Homo sapiens: one gene and its partners. The protein of the gene in region 1 purifies or fractionates together with the protein of each later gene. This does not show direct contact. Each region holds a gene or a part of one and is shown on either strand. Other genes may lie near its edges.

Evidence for each region.
Region 2: the proteins of KMT2E (region 1) and CPSF2 purify together in Homo sapiens (affinity purification with mass spectrometry, with the first as the bait; one large-scale study listed by BioGRID). This does not show direct contact.
Region 3: the proteins of KMT2E (region 1) and TBL1X purify together in Homo sapiens (affinity purification with mass spectrometry, with the first as the bait; one large-scale study listed by BioGRID). This does not show direct contact.

The regions. Positions count from the first base shown.
Region 1 is NC_000007.14:105,076,510-105,080,239, reverse strand, and holds part of KMT2E (inactive histone-lysine N-methyltransferase 2E), read right to left. Parts: intron 3,278-3,730; coding exon 3,047-3,277; intron 2,938-3,046; coding exon 2,807-2,937; intron 1,395-2,806; coding exon 1,277-1,394; intron 1-1,276. UniProt on the Homo sapiens protein: Associates with chromatin regions downstream of transcriptional start sites of active genes and thus regulates gene transcription. Chromatin interaction is mediated via the binding to tri-methylated histone H3 at 'Lys-4' (H3K4me3).
Region 2 is NC_000014.9:92,135,469-92,138,968, forward strand, and holds part of CPSF2 (cleavage and polyadenylation specificity factor subunit 2), read left to right. Parts: coding exon 1-28; intron 29-2,763; coding exon 2,764-2,879; intron 2,880-3,500. UniProt on the Homo sapiens protein: Component of the cleavage and polyadenylation specificity factor (CPSF) complex that play a key role in pre-mRNA 3'-end formation, recognizing the AAUAAA signal sequence and interacting with poly(A) polymerase and other factors to bring about cleavage and poly(A) addition.
Region 3 is NC_000023.11:9,688,448-9,692,177, reverse strand, and holds part of TBL1X (F-box-like/WD repeat-containing protein TBL1X), read right to left. Parts: intron 600-3,730; coding exon 467-599; intron 66-466; coding exon 1-65. UniProt on the Homo sapiens protein: F-box-like protein involved in the recruitment of the ubiquitin/19S proteasome complex to nuclear receptor-regulated transcription units. Plays an essential role in transcription activation mediated by nuclear receptors.

The DNA of each region.
Region 1 (3,730 bases):
TTTAGATTTTAGCTTTGTCATCTAACTTAAATCATCGCATGTATTGAGCCATAAATAGAGCTTCCAAGATAGAAGGAAAGTCGTCCAGTATTAGGCTGGACCTGGTGGCTCATGCCTGTAATCCTAGCATTTAGGGAGGCCGAGGCAGGAGGATTGCTTGAACACAGGAGCTCCAGACCAGTCTGGACAACATAGGGAGAACCCAACTCTACAAAAAATTAAAGAATCATTAGTTGGGCATGGTGGCACGCACCTGTGGTCCCAGCTACTCAGAAGTCTGAGGTGAGAAGATAACTTTACCTCCTAAAGGCCCAGGAAGTTGAGGCTCCAGTGAGCCATGATTGCACCTCTGCACTCCAGCCTAGGCAAGACCCTGCCTCAAAAATAATAATAATAATAATAATAATAATGATTTAAAAAGTCCGGGCAGGCTCATGCCTGTAATCCCAGCCCTTTGGGAGGCTAAGGCAGAAGGATCACTTGGCCCAGGAGTTGGAGACCAGCCTGGGCAGCAAAATGAGACTCCATCTCTGCAAAAATTTAAAAAATTAGCTGGGCATGGTTGCACACGCCTGCAGTCCCACCTACTCAGAAAGCTGAGACAGGAGGATCACTTGAGCATGAGAGGTCACGGAGGCTGTAGTGAGCTGTGCTCATGACACCACACTCCAGCCTGGGAGACAGTGAGACACTGCCTCAAAAAAAAAAAAAAAAAAAAAAAAAAAAAAGGAAGTCCAATATTTCCTCTTATAAGGAGCATCATCATTTCTTCAAGGTGCAAAGTAATTTTTAAGACTTCATAGCGGCCAGGCATGGTGGCTTACACTCGTAATCCCAGCATTTTGGGAGGCTGAGATGGGCAAATCACCTGAGGTCCGGAGTTCGAGACCAGCCTGGTCAAAATGGTGAAACCCCGTCCCTACTAAAAATGCAAAAAAATAGCCGGGCATGGTGGTGCGTGCCTGTAATCCCACCTATTCGGGAGGCTGAGGCATGAGAATCACTTGAGCCCGGAAGACGGAGGTTACATGAGCTGAGATCGTGCCATTGTATTCCAGCCTGGGCAACAAGAGTGAAACTCCGTCTCAAAAAAAAAAAAAAAAGACTTCATAGCCAGTTATCACATAAATTTTCACAAAAAAACAGGCTGGGCAGTATAAAATGCACCAACAGGTGGAAAGTGTCTTAGGTCAGTGACCTGAGTTTTGTGCTTATTGCTCAGATTCCAACACACCCCCAGCACCCACATCTCCCCAAAAAATTTCTATAAGCTTACCTCTGCATTGGGTGTACAAGACCGCCTGATGAATCGAGCCTCATTCCCAAAAGTCCTTGCATCAACACACATTTCTAGCCCATGAAATTTAGAGTAGAATAACACAAAAGGGTATGGTCTACAAAGAAAGAAACATTATAAGCTATTAACATTTTAGGCCGGGCATGCTGGTTCACACCTGTAATTCCAGCACTTTGGGAGGCCGAGGCAGGTGGATTGCTTGAGTCCAGGAGATCAAGACCAACCTGGGCAACATGGCGACACTCCGTATTTACAAAAAAAAAAAAAAAAAAAAAAAAAAAAAAAGGCCAGGCATGGTAGCATGTGCCTGTAGTCCCAGCTACCTGGGAAGCTGAGGTGGGAGGATCACCTGAGCCCAGGACATCAAGGCTGCAGTGAGCCATGATCATGCCTCACTGATAGAGCGAGACTGTCTCAAAAACAAACAAACAAACAAAAGTCAACATTTTAGGACAATAATCTGTTACTCTTCAGAGGCAAAGTGATGAAGAAACTTAAGAACACAGAGTCTAAGAAACTTCTAAAAGACATAGTGAAGCCAAGATTTGAATATAGGCAGTCTGACTCCACAATTCACTCTTATCTTATGCTAGTTTATGCTAATGAGATTTTTACCTGCCCCATAACCTCACCTAAATCAAAGGCAATTAATGGAAGGTAGAAATTCCAATTTACAAAGAAAGATAAAAAGAGAGTGACTACTGCATTCACAAGATTAATTTGATGTCTTTAGAGTTCACATTTCCTGGTGCATTTAAAAGTATCTGTCTTATACCGTTTCAGATCAAATCTGCTACATAATAGGGAGAAATTGCTGTGTATCTTTCATATCTTAAGTAAATATTCAAGTTATAAACAATAAATGTTTTTGATAATTGTAGGACACAGACTAGGAATGTTCTCCTACAGATATGAACATACTTCTAGACTACAGGGAAGCAACGCCTATCAAAGGGTCATATTAATTCTGCATACAAATCTCAAACCAAAGAAGAGACCTCCAATACCATTCCAATACCAACAAAGTGGGTGTTGAAAGTGGTGGCAATAATGTAGGACCCAATCTAACACTGTCTAATAAAGAGGAAGGGGTTTCTCCTATGGTTACCATGGTCTTTCTCCATTCCGGCTATTACGTTATGAGGAATTATCATGAGTCCCAGATGGAAAGGGTTCCTTGTAATCTCAATCAATCAGAATTCCTGACTGATATCCTTCTATATCCAACCTATATTGCTGTTGGTTAATCTTTGAAGTAGATTGTTTTAGGATTTTCAGCAAGACAGACATGAGCAAGAGACCGGAATATATCTTTGCATTTTTTTATGTTGTTTTAGTTTATCGTAGTTCAAAAATTATCATCAGTCACTGTTCAACCACACTACAGCTTTAAATACTGAAATGATCATGTAGGAAAAAAAGTACATATAATCACAACATCTAGGTAAAACAGCCAAAAGTTCAATATTTACCTACAGAAAATGAACATGGGAAAATAAATGAATATACCTTTTAAAGAAATACCCATTTGCTTCAAACTGTTCTCTCAGCATAAACTTCCCTCTGTATTCAATGATAAGTGCATCAGGAGGCAAATCTTTTGCAGATTTAAGAATTTTCTTATTCTTTTGTATATGGCTCTAAAATCAGAGTAAATGTTGAGATTAAATAAACTTGCTTGTTTTCAGTTTAACTAAAAATTCACAATATAAAACTGCTTTACAATTTTTGGACAAATGATGTATTTACCTCTACAGGAGGTTTGAAGAGCAAATTGTTGGTATTCAAATCGGATTTATTCATCTCTTTTTTGTCATTTCCATTGCCTAATCTCAGAGCTATTCTTTGTGCCTCCCTCTGAACACCCTCACTGTACTGGTTGTTATTTGCTTCTTCATATCGATCCATCCATGCTTTGATCTTTGTCTCCCATCCAAAATTTGAACCATCAGATGAAGGATCAATCTCTGGAGCTGAACCCTAAAATCATAAACTGAGCTTTAGTATCTGGACTTACGGACTTACACACACACACACACACACACACACACACACACACACACACACACAAAATTAACGGCAATCTATACAAAAGAACATAATATAAACTAGAAACTGCTGTTTAACGGTTTCTTTTCCAGAAATGTGGAATAATAAATACCACAGGGACAAAAGATACACTGTAACATGCTCCCCACATCCTATTTAATGTGACAATTTTAGAAATTTGTTATCCTTTTCTACCTAAGCCAGAAAACTATAGTAACAGCATACAGCTGACCTCTGTGACCCCAGACAAACTTATGTTTTGGGGTCAGACAGAGGCGAGGAGCCTCGCTTCTCTCAGCAATTTTAGCATCTAAAAAAGTGAGGACATACATTAATTAATTCAAGATACTTTTTAGCTACCATCGATCATTCTGACTGGTTTGT
Region 2 (3,500 bases), on another chromosome or scaffold:
CAGTTGACTTCAACCACAAGAGGGAGATGTAGGTATATCAAGAGAAAAGCTAAAGGCAATGCAATTGGTATTATTTTATTCTTTGGAGAAAAAATAAGAAACACAGTTTTTGTTTTGGTTACCAGAAATTTAGAGCAACTTAAAACCGTCAAATAGGGAGTGTTTTCAAAATTAATTATTTGCATAGTAAGGGGGAAAGTATGGTATAAGACATAAGAGATTTTAAAAATTTATAGGTTAAGTATACACTCTACAAAACGGGTATCTCCCTGGAGATGTTGCAAAGGAGATGAATTTTTTACGTATCAAATTACATGTTCTTGACCTGCTATTTAACACAACTTTGTGGATGGGTTGTTCTTTTGTTTTGTAACGTGATATGGTTTGGCTCTGTGTCCCCACCCAAATCTCATCTTATAGCTCCCATAATTCCCACATGTTGTGGGTGGGACCCGGTGGGAGATGATTGAATTATGAGGTTGGGTCTTTCCCGTGCTGTTCTTGTGATAGTGAATGGGTTTCACGAGATCTGATAGTTTTAGAAACAGGAGTTGCCTTGCACATAATGTAATTACCATCTAATATAACTGCCCTGTATGTTTAAAGTTAGTCCCTTTGAAAGGGAACTCAATTCTAGTTATGATTTTACACACTTCATGTGGCACTCAGAGCATTACTATATAATATTTTGGTGTTTAGTCTCTTACAGGCTCGTTTTGTTTTATCTGTACATTAAGTTCATAGCTATTTTGTGTTACATTACAATAGTCTCAGGATCTTTATATTAAGAAATATTTAAGACAAATAGACTGAATTTTAGACACTTATAACCATAGATTAATGAGGAAAGGATGGCTATGTTGCAGGGCAAAAGAGTGAGGGTCGTGATCAACTCAGTATACCACTGGAGGCTATATGAGTAAACAGCAAACTGTTCGCATAAACGCAGAAAATTGGCAAACTGACAAACTGTGTCTGCCACCCAGAAGGAATGCTGAGGGCAGTCAGGCCTCAGGTGCAGGTGTTTCTTGTGATTAGACACATCTGAAGCCTGTTAGCAGTAATGTGAACCTGTGATCAATTAAGCAGCTGACCAATTGTTACCTCGTCCTCCCTGCTCTTTCTACCCAATAAATATGAAGGGCTGTAGAAGCTGAAGGCAGCTCCCTTTGCTCACTAGAAGCAGGGAGCTCTCTTCTTCTTCTCCTGACCCCTTCCTTTAAAATAGTTACTTTTGTTTTAAGTTTTCATTTCTGCATTCGTCCTCCTTCGTTCAGTCTCGTAGTAACCGTGGCAAACTGCAGCATGGCTATTTGAGTAAATGGTATTGAAGGATTCAACCATTTTGGAAAAAAATCAATTTGTGTCCTTTTAATTATATAACAAAAGAAATTTCAGATGGATTAGAACTAAATAGAAATGAAGCAATATTGGTGAGTCTGATCTCTGATTTGGAAAAGACTTTGTAAGCATAAAAATAATGAACCAAGTTACAAAGTAAAAGTTTGATAGATTTGATGACATACAGGTTCAAATGTCTGAAACAACAAATAAAAAAAAAAATCAAAGTAGGAAAATATTTGCAGCAAGTTGCCCAAAAACTTACAACATATATATAAGATCAAGTATTAATTTATTAATAAAAATATACCAGTTGCAAGATGGACAAAAGTTATAAAGTCAAAAGAGAAAATTTAAATGATCTTTTTTTGTTAGATACCATTAAAATTATTATTATTCTTATTTATATTTTTATGTATTTTTTTGAAACAGAGTCTCACTCTGTCACCGAGGCTGGAGGCACAATCACGGCTCACTGTAGTGTCGACCTCCCAGCTTCAAGCAATCTTCCCATTTTAGCCTCCCAAGTAGCTAGGACTACAGGTGCGCTCTAACATGCCTGGCTATTTTTGTAATTTTAGTAGAGATGAGGTTTTGCCATGCTGCCCAGGCTGGTCTTGAACTACTGGGCTCCAGTGATCTGCCCACCTCTGTCTCCCAAAGTGTTGGGATTACAGGCATGAGCCACTGCACTAGTCCAAAATTATTTTTAAATGGTGATTTTCTTCTGGGAAGTATGTAGAATTGGTCAGTCTTTTTGATTGAACTTTTCTGGATGAGGTTAAATCTTGCTGGAAAGCCTTTTAGCAGTACTATGTATTAACAGTAAATACATTTTTAGGAATGTGACCTAAAGAAACAATCAGAAATGCAATTGAAGCTTTTGTAAAAAATGTTCTTTGGAAGATTATAATGGCAAAAATAAGTGACCGAAATATCAGTAAAGGGAAAGGATCAAATACAGTGTAGACACAATAAAATGTTTTTATAACTGTTAAACATTTAGTTTAGAAAAAAATTTTTATGTCCTGGGTAAAAACCAGGATATAGAACTGAGCGTATAGGAATGTATATGGGATATCAGCTTTGTAAAATACATATGTATATCAGTACTTACCATAAGACAGGGCAAAAAGAAAAATAAAAAAAATACATATGTGCATAGAAAAACTTATATGGTTAGCAGGATGTACACCAAAATATTATGTCAGTTATCTCTGAGTAATGGTACTCTGGAAGATTTTTATTTTCTTCTTTATACTTTTTTGAAGTTACTGGATTTCTTATCAATGAGCATGTCTACTTTTATAGTTAGAGGAGGGAACACCTTATAAATGAAGCTGCTTATTTTTTAAGTAAGAGAAGCTATTATTGTTTACTTGAAATGATATAAAATATTCCTCTTCTTAAACTTTCTTATAGCCATTTAAATGGATGTTCCCTGGAAATGCTAAGCAGGCCTTCCCTACTTATCACAGATTCATTCAATGCTACATATGTACAGCCTAGAAGAAAACAGAGAGATGAGCAGCTTCTGAGTACGTATTCTTTCACGTCCTTATTATTATTATTATTTTGTAACTTTTTGTATATTTAGGGAATATAAGTACATAAAAGTACAGGTTTCTTTTTTTTTTTGAGACGGACTTTCGCTCTTTCACCCAGGCTGGAGTGAAGTGGCGCGATCTCGGCTCACTGTAACTTCCGCCTCCTGGGTTCAAGTGATTCTTGTGCCTCAGCCTCCCGAGTAGCTGGGATTACAGGTGTGCACCACCACGCCCAGCTAATTTTTGTATTTTTAGTGGAGACAGGGTTTCTCCATGTTGGCCAGGCTGGTCTTGAATTTCTGACCTCAGGTGATCCACCTGCCTTGGCCTCCCAAAGTGCTGGGATTACAGGCATGAGCCACCACGCCCGGCCACAAGTATAGGTTTCTTAATGCATACGTTGCACAGTGGTGAAGTTTGGCCTTTTACTGTATCCGTCTCCAGAATCGTGAATGTTGTACCCAATGTATAATGTCCTTTTCAAGGAGCTGTGGAAATGCATGGTAGTGGGAATGACTGTATTCTGTTTAGCACTTTTCTTGGTCATAAGAGATTGGTTAACTTTAGTATTTTTGAAAAAAATATTATGTGACCATCAGTTTTTGTATAAGA
Region 3 (3,730 bases), on another chromosome or scaffold:
GCTGGGTGGAGCCCCCGTTGCTATTCTCATTCAGGTTCCATATCCTTGCAGTTGAGTCTCCAGATCTACAGAATAAAAACACAGGAGCCTCTGGTGTTTGGTTCAAATGGGATAAGAAGCTCTCCACAGCTTGCTCTCTGGCCAGAGGGCATCTTCAGCACATGCTCTTCTGTCTTTTTCATCCCTCTGGATCCCTGTTTCCCTCTTTGCCATCTTTGCATTTGGTAATTTAAGTGCTGCTGTGTTCCTCACCACCACATGGAGAAAACGACTTGGAACTATGGCTTCTCCACAATATGAGACATGTAGAGAAGTGGCTCATAGAGCCACCCATTCCTTGGTCTGCCCACACACCGGGGTAAGAAGGGGAGTGTGTGTTCCTTTAGGCAGAACTCCAGAGAAGGGCGAGCAGCTTGCATCTCCCATCTCCCCAACTCTGGAGCGCCCCCCACCCTGACATCCTTACCCGGAGGCTAGCAAATCACTGACAGGATTCCAGGCACAAATGAACACCTCAGACTCATGGCCCCGAAGGACTGTGGCTTTGCTGGATGGAATCTCAACCTCTCCATCTATTTCCATTGGCTTCGCGTGATTATCTGTCACAGCAAACACAAAGAGACAAGTGGCTTACCAATACAAGAGAAACACACTTAAAGGGCTCTTTTGTTTCCAGAAACATTTTTTTTATGTACTAAATACTACCTCTGATGATTCCTTTTCTTTTTTTTTTTTTTTTTTTGAGACGGAATCTTGCTCTGTCGCCCAGGCTGGAGTGCAGTGGCACGACCTCGGCTCACTGCAACCTCCGTCTCCCAGGTTCAAGCAATTCTCATGCCTCAGCCTCTCAAGCAGCTGGGATTACAGGCATGTGCCACCACACCAGGCTAATTTTTGTATTTTTAGTAGAGGCGGGGTTTCACCATGTTGCCAGGGTCGGTCTCAAACTCCTGGCCTCAAGTGATCCACCTGCCCCAGCCTCCCAAAATGCTGGAATTACAGGCGTGAGCCACCACGCCCGGCCTACCTCTGATGATTCTAACGAAATCGTGGCTTTAGTGCAATTTAGTAAATATTTTAGGTTTCTTTACATTTTGACAGTCTCTAAATTTCATTGAGGAATAAAAACAGTTTGCTAAGTGCAGTGGCTCACACCTAAAATCCCAGTGCCTCAGGAGGCTGAGGAGGGAGGACTGCTTGAGACCAGGAGTTCAACAGCAGCCTGGGCAACATAGCAAGACCCCATCTCTATAAAAACAACAACAACAACAACAACAAGAAGTTAGCCAGCCCTGGTGGTGCACACCTGTAGTCCCAGCTACTCAGGAGGCTGCGGTGGGAGGATCACTTGAGCCCAAGAGATTGAGGCTGTAGTGAGCTATGATTGTGCCACTGTACCCCAGCCTGGGTGACAGTTATTTTTTGTAACTGGGGCCAGCTAACTACAGCCCATGATCCAAACCTAGTCCCTGGCTGCTTCTGCATAAATAAAGTGTGACTGGCACACAGCCACTGCCCATGTTTTCAAATTGTCTATGGCTACTGTTATGGGCTAAACTATGTCCCCCTAAAATTCATATCTTGAAGCCCCAATTTCCAGGGGCCTCAGAATGTGGCTGTATTTGGAGATAGGGCTTTTGAAAAGGTGAGCAGGGTAAAAGGAGGTCACAAGGGTGGGCCCTAACCCAGTGGGACTGGTGTCCTTATGAGAAGAGGAGATCAGGACACAGACACAACCAGAGGAACGAGCACGTGAAGACATGGAGAGAAGACAGTCTCTACAAGCCAAGGAGAGAGGCCTCGCAAAGGAACCAGCCCTGCCCACACCTTGATCTTGGTCCTCCAGCCTCCAGAACTGTGAGAGCAAATTCTTAAACAGCCTGGTGTGTGGCCTTTTGTTACGGCAGCCTGAGCTGACTCTCACAGCTGTTTTTGCACTCTGACAGACTTCAGCAGCTGTGACAGAGACTGCATGACCCTCAAAGCCTGGGACATTTACTGTCTGTCCCTGTAAAGAAAGTTTGCTAGACCCTGGTTTATGCTCCTGAGAAAGGAGCAATATAGCCTGATCATCAAACAATTAGCCATGGTTAACAGTTTCACAATACGGTGAGGAATTGAGCATGCTTTGTCATATGTCTTTCGTAAAGGTGCTCTGGTGGAAAACCCAGGAAACAGAAGCAATGTGATCTTAGGTTACGTGTCACTGAGTAGGAGTGCTGTTTATGTAAAAAATAAGAAAACGCCTGGTGGTCCTGCTTAGCTCGAGAAGCCTGATACAAAAGATTCAAACAACAATGGGACTCTTCAATGTTGGTGTTTCTTCCATGCTCTGAAAGTGTCATCTGGCTGGAAGAGAGGAAAAACATCTTTCTGCATGTGGCAGACCCACTGTCCCTGGTGATGGCAAGAGGGAAACTGGCATCTTAGCCAGCCACGCAGTGGCAGGGGGCCTGGTAACTCCAGGCAGGAGTGACAGCCAGTATTTTCATTCTTATCAAAATGCGGCCTTCCAATGCTCCTGTCTCCATAGACTGGGCTGTGGGTCAGGCACAAGATGCAGGGTTTGAGAAGGGGGTTGGGGTGGCTGTTCCAGAAGTTCAACCAGGGTGAACTCTGGCCACATGCACAGAGGAGGAGGGCCAGACTCTTCTTTTCCTGCCCCACAATTGTGGACCTTATCAATAGAAGGCTGGTAAGAGGTCTTTTCCTTTTACCTGAGGCAGGTGGCCTTTCTGTCACCCTATTGCAATAGAAACGTTATTAACAATCTGTGAACCTTCCATTAAATGCTGGATCTGCTTCTCCAAGAATTTTTTAGCTGGTGCCTGTGGATGGTAACTTGTCACAGGGCTTGGCTCGGGCTGCAGCCTCATCAGAGGCAGCCGGCTGGCTCTCTACACACCAGGAAGTTGTGGAGCCAAGACGTACCAGGTAAGACAGCAACGTCATAGTCAGCTCGATCTTCAAGGACTGCTGGGCTGCATGGCTGCTCCGAGGGCAACAACTTTCAAATAAGGAAGAACACACACACATACACTACACCATGCACAGGTGTGCGTGCGTGCGCACACACACGCACACAAACTTGTGCACACACACGCACAGGAACACAGGTGCGCACACGCATATACGCGTGCACGCACACACGCACACACGCACACATACACGCACACGCATGCATACACACTTGCACACAGACACAGGCACATACACATGCAGATATACACATGTACAACATACATATGCACCCATGCATACCTGTGCATGCAAGTGCATGCGCGCACACGGTGCGCCATGCACGGCACATATGCTCGCTCTGAACTTGCACCCTGAAGTGGCGTCCCTACGGGTGTATAGAGCAGTATGTCTAAGTGGAGCAGGTTCTCTGGGTAGAATTTTGGGCTCTCTGACTGGCCACATACTCACAGGCAATCACCTAACAGGGACTGATGTCCTGGGGTTTTGCAAAGACCAAATAAGCCTATGCCCAGTCTCTGGGGCCCAGTGCCCTTGGCAGGAACTGCAAGCTCAATAATTATACCATAATTTGGCCAAAAACCCTCAACATGGAAGGCTGGAGGCTGAGACTAAAGGTGTCCATGAATGAAACACTTTTGTTTATCACGGGCAATAATCATGTGTTACATGAGAGTTCTCAGATTAGCAGGCGCAGCACGATTTCCTAAAGTTGAAGATGAGGGTGAAGAAGCTCAGGTCCAAGGGTTGT